Homo sapiens: one gene and its partners. The protein of the gene in region 4 purifies or fractionates together with the protein of the main gene of each other region. This does not show direct contact. Each region holds a gene or a part of one and is shown on either strand. Other genes may lie near its edges.

Evidence for each region. The genes of interacting proteins can lie anywhere in the genome.
Region 1: the proteins of MTF1 (region 4) and DNAJC2 purify together in Homo sapiens (affinity purification with mass spectrometry, with the first as the bait; one large-scale study listed by BioGRID). This does not show direct contact.
Region 2: the proteins of MTF1 (region 4) and ZC3H15 purify together in Homo sapiens (affinity purification with mass spectrometry, with the first as the bait; one large-scale study listed by BioGRID). This does not show direct contact.
Region 3: the proteins of MTF1 (region 4) and PDCD11 purify together in Homo sapiens (affinity purification with mass spectrometry, with the first as the bait; one large-scale study listed by BioGRID). This does not show direct contact.

The regions. Positions count from the first base shown.
Region 1 is NC_000007.14:103,317,268-103,320,767, reverse strand, and holds part of DNAJC2 (dnaJ homolog subfamily C member 2), read left to right. Parts: intron 1-923; coding exon 924-1,012; intron 1,013-1,089; coding exon 1,090-1,159; intron 1,160-3,500. UniProt on the Homo sapiens protein: Acts both as a chaperone in the cytosol and as a chromatin regulator in the nucleus.
Region 2 is NC_000002.12:186,489,260-186,492,759, reverse strand, and holds part of ZC3H15 (zinc finger CCCH domain-containing protein 15), read right to left. Parts: intron 1-3,500. UniProt on the Homo sapiens protein: Protects DRG1 from proteolytic degradation. Stimulates DRG1 GTPase activity likely by increasing the affinity for the potassium ions.
Region 3 is NC_000010.11:103,444,210-103,446,794, reverse strand, and holds the end of PDCD11 (protein RRP5 homolog), read right to left. Parts: intron 2,279-2,585; coding exon 2,113-2,278; intron 1,418-2,112; coding exon 1,246-1,417; 3' UTR 501-1,245; downstream 1-500. UniProt on the Homo sapiens protein: Essential for the generation of mature 18S rRNA, specifically necessary for cleavages at sites A0, 1 and 2 of the 47S precursor. Directly interacts with U3 snoRNA. Involved in the biogenesis of rRNA.
Region 4 is NC_000001.11:37,856,793-37,860,915, forward strand, and holds the start of MTF1 (metal regulatory transcription factor 1), read right to left. Parts: upstream 2,801-4,123; 5' UTR 2,739-2,800; exon of another isoform or gene 1,696-2,738; intron 918-1,695; 5' UTR 867-917; coding exon 459-866; intron 1-458. UniProt on the Homo sapiens protein: Zinc-dependent transcriptional regulator of cellular adaption to conditions of exposure to heavy metals. Binds to metal responsive elements (MRE) in promoters and activates the transcription of metallothionein genes like metallothionein-2/MT2A.

The DNA of each region.
Region 1 (3,500 bases), on a different chromosome or scaffold from region 4:
TATATGTGTATATATATATATTTTGTGACAGAGTCTTGCTCTGTCGCCCAGGCTGGAGTACAGTGGCGCAATCTCCGCTCACTGCAAGCTCCGCCTCCTGGGTTCACGCCATGCTCCTGCCTCAGCCTCCCGAGTAGCTGGGACCACGCCCGGCTAATTTTTTGGATTTTTAGTAGAGACGGGGTTTCACTGTGTTAGCCAGGATGGTCTCGATCTCCTGACCTCACGATCCGCCTGCCTCGGCCTCCCAAAGTGCTGGGACAGTTTTAGAATATTAACTTGTTTTTTGGTTTGATAATGGTAAGATGATTATGTTTAGAAAAAAACTATCAGGGTTGAAAACTGAAATATGTACACCTGAAATTTAGAAAAAGTTAAAAACAGCCGGGCGCGGTGGCTCACACCTGTAACCAGCACTTTGGGAGGCTGAGGCGGGTGGATCACAAGGTCAGGAGTTCAAGACCAGCCTGGCCAAAATGGTGAAACCCCGTCTCTACTAAATATAGAAAAAATTAGCCAGGTGTGGTGGCAGGCGCCTGTAATTCCAGCTACTCAGGAGACTGAGGCAGAAGAATAGCTTGAACCCGGGAGGTGGAGGTTGCAGTGAGCCGATTTCGTGCCACTGGACTCCAGCCTGGGCGACAGTGAGACTCCGTCTCAAAGAAAAGAAAAAGTTAAAAACATTTACACTGAGATAAAATTATACCTGTTCAGTTGTCATTGTCTGTTTTTTTGAGATGGAGTCTTGCTCTGTTGTCCAGGCTGGAGTGCAGTGGCGTGATCTCAGTTTGCTGCAATTTCCGCCTCCAGGTTCAAGCGATTCTCCTGCCTCAGCCTCCCGAGTAGCTGGGATTACAGCTTTGTAATTATGTTGATGGATGTATTTTTGAGTGTAGATACTATTTTTGTGTTTGTGCTTTTAGACCTGGAATCATTTTTCTGATAATGAGGCAGAGCGGGTTAAAATGATGGAAGAAGTGGAAAAACTTTGTGATCGGCTTGAACTGGCAAGGTATACCTATGGAACTGCTATTGAAGTCTTCACTTGAGCTTAGGATAAAGTTTCATTTCTTCTTTTTTTTTCTTTAGCTTACAGTGCTTGAATGAAACACTCACATCATGCACAAAAGAAGTAGGAAAGGCTGCTTTGGAAAAACAGGTAATAGAGGAACACATCACTCCTACCTATATGTAGCATTTAATTCTGCTTTGACCTGTTTCTTCACCTAATATATAAGTCACCAAGTGCAGGGAGTATCTGATTTCTCTTTATGTTTCCCACTGTTTTGTTGTTGTTGTTTTATGTGTTCGGTTTTTTGGTTTTTTGTTTTGAGACAGAGTCTTGCTCTGTTGCCCAGGCTGGAGTGCAGTGGCACGATCTTGGCTCACTACAACCTCCGCCTCCCGGGTTCAAGTGATTCTCCTGCCTCAGCCTCCTGAGTAACTGGGATTATAGGCGCACAACACCACACCTGGCTAATTTTTGTATTTTTGGTAGAGACAGGGTTTCACCATGTTGGTCAGGCTGGTCTTGAATTCTTGACCTCATGATCTGCCCATGTAGGCTTCTCAAAGTGCTGGGATTATAGGTGTGAACCACCACGCCCAGCCTGTTTTTGTTTTTGTTTTTGAGATGGAGTCTCTCTCTGTCACCCAGGCTGGAGTGCGGGTGGGATTACAGGTGTGTGCCACCATGCCCGGCTGATTTTTGTATTTTTACTAGAGACAGGGTTTCGCTGTGTTGGCCAGGCTGGTCTCAAACTCCTTACCTCAAGTGATCCGTCCGCATTGGCCTCCCAAAGGATTATAGGCATGAGCCACCATGCCCAGTCTGCATTTTGTTTATGTAGTAAGGTGCTGTTGTTGATTTAAGTTGGATTAGATGTTTATGGTTTTTACCATACTTAGTGTTTGATTTGTGGTATCTATCACAAGCATAGCTTTTGCAAAATCATATTAGAAAAAAATAATTGTTTTGATTATTCCTTGAGTATTTTCATAGGGTAATAACAGTTAGAACCAAAAGAGATCTTTGTTCTGTCTAGTCTATACCTTTTATTTTACAGATAAGAAAACAGGCCCAGAAATTCAATTCAATTCAACAAGTATTAGTACCTACTATATATAGCACTATGCCTAGGTTCTTTTGGAGAAATGCCTAATGCTGTTGCACCACAAAGGACATGCTGAGAAGAACCTGAGAAGAACCTTAAGGACCAAAAGATGGAGAGCCCATAGTAAATGAGGTGTAGGATAGGAAGGGCCACAAGTTTTAGTGACCAGGGAAGGCTCAGTGTAGTTTGAACCAGCCTGAAAGGAAGGACAGAGTTAAAATGAAGGTCAGAAGAATACCACAAACTATAAAATAGAAGTAGAAGTATAAAGTATGGTTCAGCCTGGGCAACATAAACAAAATCTCTACCGAAAATACAAAAATTAACTGGCATGGTGTCGTGTACCTGTAGTCCCAACTTCTCAGGAGGCTGAGGTTAGAGGATTACCTGAGCCTGGGAGGTCACAGCTGCAGTGAGCTATGATCATGTCGGTGCACTCCAACCTGGGCAACAGAGCGAGACTTTGTCTCAAAAAAAACAGACAAAAAAAAAATGTTATGGGGAAATGGAGTGGGAAACAAAATCAGTTAGGAAAAGCAGAACCAATGATCAGGTTTTTAATACCTTGTTGACTAGTTTCCATTACTGCAAATCTTTGATTAACAGAAGGTTCAACATTGTACTACTAATCTGACGTTTGTGGATAAGGTGCATCAGATAGATGTAACTAGTTACAAGAATCTTATTTATTTAAGAATCTGCACTATGAGCGTGGTGGCTCATGCCTATAATCCGAGCACTTTGGGAGGCCAAGGCAGACAGATCCCCTGAGGTCAGGAGTTTGAGACTAGCCTGGCCAACATGATGAAACCCCATCTCTGCTAAAAATACAAAAATTAGCTGGGCATGGTGGCAGGCATCTGTAATCCCAGCTACTTGGGAGGCTGAGGCAGGAGAATCACTTCAACCTAGGAGGCGGAGGTTGCAGTAAGCAGAAATCACACCACTGCACTCCAGCCTGGGCGACAGAGTGAGACTCTGCCTCAAAAGTAAGAAAGAAAGAAAAAGAACCTGCACTATGAATGTGATGATGGGAATCAAAAAAATTTTTCAAGGTTAGCATTATTGGGACTTTACTGGTTCTAAGGGATTGAAGGGGAGAAATGAGCCAAAGCTGACTCTTAAGATAGCAGCTGACAGAAGCAACAAGGGCAAATAAAGGTTCTTTTTTTACTTGTGCATGTTTGAAGGTAGTCTAGAAGGAACAATGTAAATGGTAGAGCTTCAAAATAAAAGAGGCCATTTTGCTATGCCTTCACCTTTTGGTAGAGAATAAATGAGATTGTCTGCAGAAAGGGTGAATATGAGTTTGAAGAGAGGTTTGAAATGGCCTTGTGGATGAATAACTCAGTGACCCACAGACTTGTCAATTAGTGTCCAAGGCTA
Region 2 (3,500 bases), on a different chromosome or scaffold from region 4:
AAAATACCACCACGTGGACAAGCTAGAAAAAGAAAACAATAGTACTGAAACAATTAGTATTTAAAAACATACAACATGACATAATGTTTACAGCAACCTCAAAATCAGTAAAAGATCTTTCAATAGTCTTAAGACAAAAAAGTACAGAGGGTTTTGCTTCTAAATGGTTATCTCTCATTGGGAAATATCTCTTTATTCATGACATCTATATCCATATACCAAAACTTTGCTTTCCTCTACTTAAATGCTTGTTTCATGATTTAACATCCCAACATGGTATTATACAAAATTCTACATGAATTTTCTACAGCCTATGTGTATGAAAAAAGGTAAGAAGCACAAACAAGCTGGATGTTTCTGCACTGAGCCTTTTACGGATGGCTTCCCTTGTTTCTATAAAGAAAGTTTAACACTCAATTCAATTTGAAGAAAGATGGTCAACATAATGTGATACATACAGATGAACACAGTGCAGCAACTAAGTATAAAATGCCATACTTTTCCTTTACAAAAAGTGAGCTCTCACGGGAGGGAGAGGAGGCTCTAGAAAAAAATATGATCAGGATTAAACAGCATCTACAGGTGCTCTGCCAGAGAAAATAAACTGCGGTTCAACCCATGCTCCATCTGTAACTACAGAGAAGAAACAATGAATAAATAAGGCCAAATAGCAAAGCAGATACTGCCAGATAGACTTAGGAAAGAAAAATGTCCCCTAAGGGGACCTGGCCAGTAAGAAAAGAAAGCACTCACAATGGCAGTTTCTGGTAAAGGTGTATAAACTCCCGATCCCAGAAGAAGAAAAAAAAAATCAGGTTTCATTACACTGCTCTGGCACATAAATAACCAGTTTAAAGAGATAATAAGTGAGTTGTGTTCACCTCTAAGTTAGAGCTCAGAAATTAACATTTTTCCACAGAGAAAGGGGACACTTATTTATCTAGTATTCACTAAACATAAACATAACCCCTGAATATATACTTTATTGAATCCTCTCAACAATTCTATGATACACAGAAACTCAGAAATGATAAATTCATTTGAAGTTAAGTCATTAATAAGGGGCTGGCTGTATAGTGCAAGCATTTAGAAGCATAAACTCTGGAGCCAGACTGCCCAAATTTTAATCCCAAACAGAGCTGGGTAAATTACCCTCTTTGCCACAGTTTCTTATTTGTAAAGTGAGTCTCACTTAGGGTTGTTGTGAAAGTTAAAAGATTTACCTCAGAGAGACAGTGGTGGACAGCAAGGACTCTAGAGGCAGACTTCCTGTGTTAGAATCCCTGGCACAGTTACTTGCCAGGTTAGTAAACTTGGGCAAGTTATTTAATATCTATGCCTGTTTTCAAAACTGCAAAAAGGGTAATAATACATATCCCACTGAGAGAATCAAAGGAGCTAGTATATTTATCACTTGTAGTTGGCTTGTCTCTCTTCTCTCCTTCTCCCCAAAACACTGAGAACCTTGTCTGGGCCAGTAAATGTTAACTATTAAGTGACAGATGATATTTGAACCTAGGTATATTTGACTCCAAGCAAATTCCTTCTACAGTTTTTAATAAACTACTTCCCAGAGAAACCTCATTAAGTTATTGGGCTGGTTGGTGCGCAATAACCTTTCTAAATATCACACTGCAGATCTGAGATACCAATAGCACCTCTTGAAAACAGAATGATTTGCAATTTGGAGAAGTTCAAAAAGGCTTCTTCCTGAGTTTAGGACAGAGCCCTACCTAAAGATTAACCTGAATTACAAGGTAGAAAAAAAGGAGGTTACAGTCAACCCCAAACCACAGTTAAAATAAAACTAGGAGAATAATGGTCCTCATTGGATTAATAAGGTCCCAAAAGTTAACATGATAGTAAAGGAACTGCGTGTTTATGTGTGTTTCAGAAGACAACTTGGGACATGAATACAGAGGAGTCTCGAAAGAAAAGGATGACTTCCTGAGGCTCCAAGAGCCTTAACACTCAGTAAATTCCAGGCTTCACTTAAAACTTCCCTCCCATCCGTACGTAATCCCATTCCTTTTACGGGCCAGCCTCCACTGCTTAAATAAGATGTTTGGAAAAAGGGAAGCAGCGGAAGGGCAGGTCAACACTGAATAGTGCTCCAAGATAATGGAGTCTACCCTCTTGGGACATTCGGGTAGGCAGAAGCTGTCACGGTTTTCCCTCATTAGTTTTCTCCCAAATGCACTAATGTATTCTTGTTGTCCATCCATGCAATATATATTATGCAACTGGTTAATCCAGCTTCAAGTAATCAACATTTGATTTTGGCTATTGGTAGCTGTTCTACACTGGCAACCAATTTCTCTTGCTCCATCTTTCACGACACCTGGATCCTGTCTCTATAGGTCCCTATTACTATTTCCTTGCTGATACAAGTTCTTAGCTGGGTATCTTTTATTTGCTTGCCCTAAGTCCAAGATTATTTCCTTCTTTCCATATTCAAACTTTCTATTGCTCAATACTGACTCCATTTGTCACTAAATTTTAGTTGTAAGAAAGCAAATGGTATATGCCATTTCAGACTAATGTGTTAATTTCTAACAGAACCATAATCCTGTTTGACATATTCATTTCGGAAAGTATTAATACAAATGAATTCATAAAGTTTTGGGGCATTTGAAGAGGCAAATAAAAAAAATGGAGGCAATATTAAAAAATGGAGGCAATATTAAAAAATGGGCAGGAACTAAGCACTGTATAGACTGTGCAGATCAGTCTGATGTCCCCTAGTTTTTATTTATAATACACTATCAAAATAGGCAATAACAATAGCTGCCATTTACTGAATATATACACCATATGGCAGGCACTTTACATGTATTATCTCATTTAACTCACGGGAACTAGCTGCATTTTGCAGATGAGAATTGCATTCCAGCTAGATTTTGTAACTTGTCTAAAACTATAGAGCTAGTAATTTGAAACATGGGACTCAAACCCAGGTCTCTGACTCCAAAGCTAGTGTTCCTTTCATTAATTTATGCTATCTGATGTCTCTTTTACTTCCTTAGAGTTCCCAAAACCTGCATGTTGATTTTTCCACAGTGAAGGTCCATAGAGGTGGCAGCAGAACAGGTACAGAAGAGGAAAGAGGTAGGTAGGACAACCATTATTTTCAAGTCTATTGAAACGTGCTGCTTAAAAATACATGTTTTAGTTAACTATTAATTTTGAGCAATTTAGAATTTCAGGTCATACAGCTATAAAACCTCCCAAAGTTAACCAGATTCTGAAATAAGTATCAGTCTTTATATGTCAAAATAGACTATAAAAAAGTAGTATTTCCCCCTCCAAAATTATAACAGTCACAGAGATCAATTATCTTCTTGGAATAGTCACTGAGACGTGCTAGGCTTTTAGGGAAGTTTAAAAAAAAAGTTGCCTATATAATGAAGCAGACTATATCATTTCCTAACCAGGCTGAATAACAGAATAGTCTCTATAAATCTAATTTCACAAATGCTGTAACTTAACACTACAATTCA
Region 3 (2,585 bases), on a different chromosome or scaffold from region 4:
CTAAAAGGACTAGCCTGGTGTCTGTGTGATTGAATGGGCATGCCACAGCAGGCTGGTGGTCATAGGGCCAGGCCCAAATCCTATGCCGTGTTAGGGAAGGGGACAGGACTAAAATGGCCCACAGGGGTGGCAGGGAGGGTGCAGTGAGTACCAGGGGTTCAACACAGGGGAAGGCTCTGGGGCTGATGATCTCTTTGCAGTTGGGTTCTATTATCTGATTTGGTGTGGGGAAGAGATGAAGCCTGGCCTTTCTCAGAAGGAAACAGTCTGAAATTTCACGAGTCAGAAGATTCTGCGCTCAGTGGGCAGGCCAGAACTAGCTCTCGTAACCTAGTGCTCATGTCCAAGAAGCAGGCCAGCCCCAGCTTCTCCTTCCTCCCATCCCTGCCCGCCACCCGCCCCACCTCTAGAACCTTTGGATGCTCTCCCTTGGCCCTGTCCGGCTTCCTGGCATATGACTCAGTCATTTCCCATGGAAAAGCTCTCAGGACACTTAAAGCTCTGCCAGAGAAAACGTTTAATTCCCTCATGACCAAGACAAAAAAGAACTGGCTTCAACAACTAGCTGGGTCTGTGCTGGCCTCCAAGACCTTGAATAGCCCAGATATGGAGAGGTTAGGTAATGTGGCCATAGTGGGCGTGGGATGAGACATCATCAGTTCACGCCAACACCCGTGGCTTTCCTCAGCAGCCCAGGTTTCTCCATTTCCCCCTCTGGGCTCTGAATTTGTCCTCCTGTCCCAGACTCATAGCCTCCCCTAAAGGGCAGAAGGTACCAGTGAGGCTGAGGCTGAAGGAACACCCAGAGACTCCAAGATCGGAGGGGAGGGCCCACTCCCTGGAGCCTACTGACCCCCTCCAGCTGGACTGACAGCCTGCCAGGGACAAAGCAGGACCCTGACCACAGGACCCTCGGGAATAGCCCCTCTACTCTTGCTCCCCAGGGAACTCCCCTGGAAGAGGGACCCTCAGCATTTCTGGGAGTCCAGGGGCCTGCTGCCCACAATCCCCAGGTAGCCTCAGATAAGGAAAAAGATAACAAGTTGGTACTGAAAATAAAGCAAGCGAAGAGGGATTTAAAAAATCTCAACTTCCTTTTCATCCTGACAGGATTTCCCCAAGCGTGCTGCAGAAAAAGCAGCATTTAAATAGAGTCCTGAGGTAACAGTTTTCCGAGTGCCCAGGCACTCGAGGCGGGGCCGGGCTGGCCCATTGTTGACAGTGTCCCACAGAGCCAGCCTGCCACTAGTCCTCTAGCACTGAGCTCTTGGCCTCCACATACTCCAGGGCCTTGGCCTTGACTGCCTGCACATCCTTCTCAGTGCCATGCTGCTTCTCGTAGTCCAGGTAGCGCTTGAAGAAGAACTTCATTCTCTTGGGGGCCAAGCTCAGATGAATGACCCGCTCAAAGATGTCCCTGTTGAGGAAAAGCAGAGTGGCATTTGCCTGTCAGTCCCAGGTCACGTGCTTCCTGCCTAGCACTCACCCACTTGCTCTCAGCCCTGGAACCAGGACCCTCTCCCATCCAGGACTCCCACTTCTACCATTATCTTTATTAATCCATGATGAACTCCCATGATGCCTTGGGGAGAGGCACTACCACCCTCATCTTCCAGATGAGCAGATGGACACCCAGAGATGGTAAGGGACTTCCCTGCCTAAAGCCACACAGTGATCAAGACAAAGCTACTGGGATGGGGGACACAACAGTGAGAAACATACATAGTGAAGGGCTTGGGTGAGGCACCTGTTCTTTTTGGACCTCAGTCTACTCATCTCTAAACCCTCCCTGTCTTGTGGAGACGCTGGGGTCAAAAGCAAGAGAATGCCTGTGAAAGTAGTCTACAATGAGAGTCAGGAACAGTGTTAATTATGAGAGAAACTCGAGTCTCTTGACAAGGCTACCTCCTACCAATGGTTTCAGACACAGACCAGATGCTGGCCTTTGAGGCAGAAAGAGGAGTTGAAGTGAATGTCACTGGGCCTGGGGCATCACATCTAGCTGGTTTTCTAGATCAAGTAAGAGAACTGGGATGCTGAGAGCTGCTGTGGGACCAGTGCCTACCACGCCCTCTCCTGAGGAACTCGGCCTTGGCCAGCTGCCCCACTCACCGGACGTCCTTCTGGCTGCCGTGCTTGATGGTCATGTCGATATAGACCGACCAGACATCTGTGCGCTTTGGGTAGGTGCTCAGCGTGTTCTCAAAAATGGCTTTGGCCCGCTCTGCATCCCCCAGCTGAAACTCAAGCTGGGCAAACTTGGCAATGACATCCACATCTGCAGGGAGAGGACTGCTCAGAGACCCAACAAGCAGACAGCCCCCTCACCACAACACAGTGTTCCGCAGGGTCAGCGTGCACCTGACTCCCTGCTCTTGGGTCCCAAGACTCAGGTTGTGACAAGAGGGACAAAGACCCAAAAGGGGTGGGTTTGGGGCCAAATACACAGATGGGCACTGCAGACACACCACTCTCTGGGCACAGAAGAGGTGGGGGATCCCAGGGGCAACAGAACTAGTACTAACTGCGTTTTGTTCCTCCATCTTTTGGAGCCTGACATTTGAAATTTAACATGCACTGTTATG
Region 4 (4,123 bases):
AAATAAAAGTTCATTAAACATTCACTAAGATAATAAAACATATTCCAGCAGATACTCATCTCTAAAACAAATCATTTAAACACAACCAGGAGATAAGCCAAATATAGTTATTTCTTCATCAAATAAGCAAACTCCAGTTATTTCCCTGTAGATAAGCTAAATAGTTATTTTAGCACCAGAAACATGGGTCTACTTAAGTGAAATTTCTGTTTTATTTATGATTTGGGGAAGGAAATTCGAGAAATTACAATTTGATATTCCCAAATTTCAATGTGGCTATACAAACCAAAAGTTCCAGAAGCAATCACAACAAAACCTGAGGCATATGTTGTTGATAGCAAAACTACTTAAGTCCTAACCCCATGCACTCCTTTACTCCCCAGCTAAAATTTGCACCAAGAATTTTGTAAGGACTTGCCCCAAAACCAAACTAGGCCCTCACTGACTGCTTTACTTACTTCTTTACGTTTTGTTTCCGGACATTCCGACTGCAGAGTGAGGGTTGCACCTTCAATATTTCTTGGCATGGGTGTGGAACCAGGGTTTATTGTCAAATGAATCTGATCTGGTGAGATAATGTGCTGCACATAACCCTGGGACATTGCTTCATGATCTATCAGGTGAAAGCCCTCTTCACCCCCTACTAGAAAAGGCAAGTGTTCTCCGCACTGTCCGTCGTCATCTTCATCCTCCAAAGTGCCAGGGTCCTGCTCAATAAGAACAGTGGTCCTATCATAAACAGTTCCAGATGAGGAAGGCACCAGTCCGTTTTTATCCACAAACCTGAGCATTTTATCATCGGGGGTCAGCTCATCTTCCTCTGCCTCAAAGTAGATGATGTTGTTGTCTGGACTGTGTTCCCCCATGGTTCAGTTGTGCTCAGCCCAGTTGTGAGAAATGAAAACGTAATGACTTGTCTGCAACAGAACAAAGCCAGAGTTAGAGTCATACCACAAGACCGACGGACCTCCTCAGCAACCACAAGGCTCATTTTCCCTCTCACTTAAAGAGCAAGCCAAAGCAAATGAAAAACCATCCTTGGGAATAATTTTTTTATTTTAACTTTAAAACCATCAAGTCATTTTTAAAGAAAAGCAATGCCGACTGGGCGTGGTGGCTCACACCTGTAATCCCAACACTTTGGGAGGCTAAGATGGGAGGATCGCTTGAGGCCAGGAGTTTGAGATCAGCCTGGTCAACATAGTGAGACCCCCATCTCTAATAAAAAAAAAAAAAAAAGAAAAAGAAAGAAAAGCAATGCTTTTCAAAAACTGAATAAGTTCATAAGACCTTCTGAATACGCCTGTCAAACAATTTGAAACTTGGTCAAAATATTTAAAGGGGACAAAAGAGCAAACAGAACAGCAGCTGCTGAAAGGCTGAGTTGCTACAAATCTTAAGGGAAACTCCATCCATTCAAATATCCTCCAAATCAGACCACGAGGCAGTAAATGGTTTCATGCAGTTTATGGTAGAAGGAGCAAGGCTTTGGAGGCAGAGTCATCTACCTACAAATCCTGTCTTTGCCTTTTACTACATGGGTAACTTTTCTGTGCCTCATTTTTCTTACGTGCAAGGTGGGACCAGTAATTCCTGTTCTCTCAAAGTTTTTATAAGAAATAAAAGAGGCAACATATGTAAAGCACAATGTTTGGTAAATAGTAGAGGAACAAGTATGAATTCCTTCCCCCCTACCTAGAACAGATGTTTCAACCTTCTGGGTGGAAGGGCTATTCCTCAATCAGGCACAAACAACGAAGATCACTGTATCTATTTATGTCCTAAAACAATATGGTGTCAACAAGAAGTTATGGTTCTGTGGTGGGCTCTCGTCCCTGAATCAATTGAGTCTTATTATTTTTGTTTCTACAGCTCCTAGCATAGTACACTGATACTATGATAAGAGTTCAGGAAATGTCAGCTAAATGACTGAAAGACATGGCTACCTACTCTCTCGTGAAGATATACTATCTTGGGAAGATACATTCTCTTGAGAAAAATACCACATTTGAAGCTTTCATGTTCTGGAATAGTGATTCTTCCTTCATCTGCAAACACAGGCTCTACAAATGTGGGTTTGGCAGGCAGAATAGAGAATTTTAAAATAATCAGCACATCCCTTTTAGTTTTCAGTCTGGCTTTGCGCTTTATCTTTCTCTTCTGCTCTGGGTTAGAAAGTGAGCCTTTACTTAGTGGGATGGCTAGACAGTTACCAGAGACAGGCCAAAGGATTGGATCCGGGAGGTACCGGCCCGACCCCTAGCTCTGGCTTACGCAACCCCACAGATGTACATTTCGCTGCATCTGAGCAGAGAGAGAAGAGCACCGAGGGCCCCAGTGGGCTGCCCCGGCACCCTCGGCGGCAACGCGGAGACCAACTGTCCGAAACAAACAAGACCAGGAGGTTTGAGGGTAGCCAACGAGGAGTGCGAACAGAGCCCCCTTGAGAGGAGGCTGGGAAAAGGAACCTGTCTGGGATAGCCCCCAGCACAGGGCTACACAGAAAAATCCGAAGACAAGCTGGGGGTCTCCAAGCAAGGAGGAGAGGGGCAGGGTCCGGGTCTCCATGGAAACAGGGAAGGGGGGCTGGATACCCATCCCCATGGAAACGGAGAAGGGGTGGGGTCCCTATGGTGACCAAACTGAGGTCTCTATTGGGAAATGCTTCAGGAGGGAGCCTAAGTCCCGCGCCTCCCGGTAAGTCCCAAGCCCAGGCCGAGTCTAGTTTCGCCTTTTACCTCCGCGGCTCCCGGCAACGGCGGCAGCAGCAGCTTCTCCCCTCCCCAGCGGCACCATGATTGCCCCCACCTTCCCCTAACGTCACTTCCGCTTCCTCTTTCCGGAGGAAGGTGGGGACAGAGGATCCGCCCCTCCCTGGCGCCTCTGGTTGGCTCAGGTTGTCAGGGGGCTGAGCTGCAGCCTCCAATTGGCGAGCGGGGCACCGAGGGGAAGGCGCCCAGGAGGTGGGTTCATCCGCGTGGGGAAGCGCCCGGGGTGGCCACGCGGGGCCCGGAGGGTGTCGCCCTCGCGGCACCGGAGTCAAGGAGAAGGGAACGAATCCCCAAGGAAGAATCCGAAATGTCCTCAGCCAGGTTTGCGCTGACCGCCCTCGCCCTGGCAGCCACAGCCGCAGCGGGAAGGACCACAGTTGGCAGTCAGAACCCTGGCTCCAACCCGCCAGGGGAGCCTGGACGGCCGCGACGTTCCCGGGTTTCTCCTGCCGGGACCCCGGCCTTCCCTTCAGCACCCATCAAAGTTAACACAGGCAGGAGGCCCAGAAAGGAAGACAAGACCCCAAAGGCAGAACTAAGAGTATTCTAAGCCCAGCTGGAGAGGACGCCGCCGCCTCTTCCCCTTCTCACGCGCTTGCCTAGGACCCCCAGCTCCCTTCTCACGCGCTTGCCCAGGCTGGCGGTCCCAACTTTCTTCCCCTGCAAGAGGACGCGGCTACGGCGGGACTCATGCCCGGGCCAGTTAGCGCCACCTACCGGCCACTCCCTTCCTTTCACCGTTCACATTGTCCTGCTGGCCCGCGTCTTAAACCCATTTCACAGTGCCCAGAAGTAGTGGGCATTCGTACCCAGGAAGCGATTCTGCCTTCGTTATGCCCCTGTCCTTTCCAAATGCCTGGAGGATCTAGCTGTTAGATCCTCCCAGCTGCCACTGCCTGTTTTAACCATAAGCTGCTTCTCTCGAATATTCAGAGTGGGACAACTCCAAAGACCAGACCAGGGGTCAAGGGGTTCAGGTCAGTGCCATAACCATTTCTTGCTGGAAGTATGTGAATAGTGACTGGTACCCACCAGACTGCCAGGAATATGTCTCTTTGGCCCCAAGGCTTGAGCCACAAAATCCAGCTGCAGCGAACTGCCATCTCTTAAGACATAAAAACATACACAACCGCCACTGTTAAAAATACATTTATCATTAAAATATATTACACATGGAGACAGGATGCATCATATACAGTTTGGAAGACTTGCTGGCCCAGAAAATCCCACTTGTTTCACCGAACACTCATTTTTTCAGTGATTTTACATTTTATTTTTAGAGACGGGGTCTCCCTCTCTCACCCGGGCTGGCGTACAGTGATGTGGTCATAGGTCACTGCAGCCTCAAACTC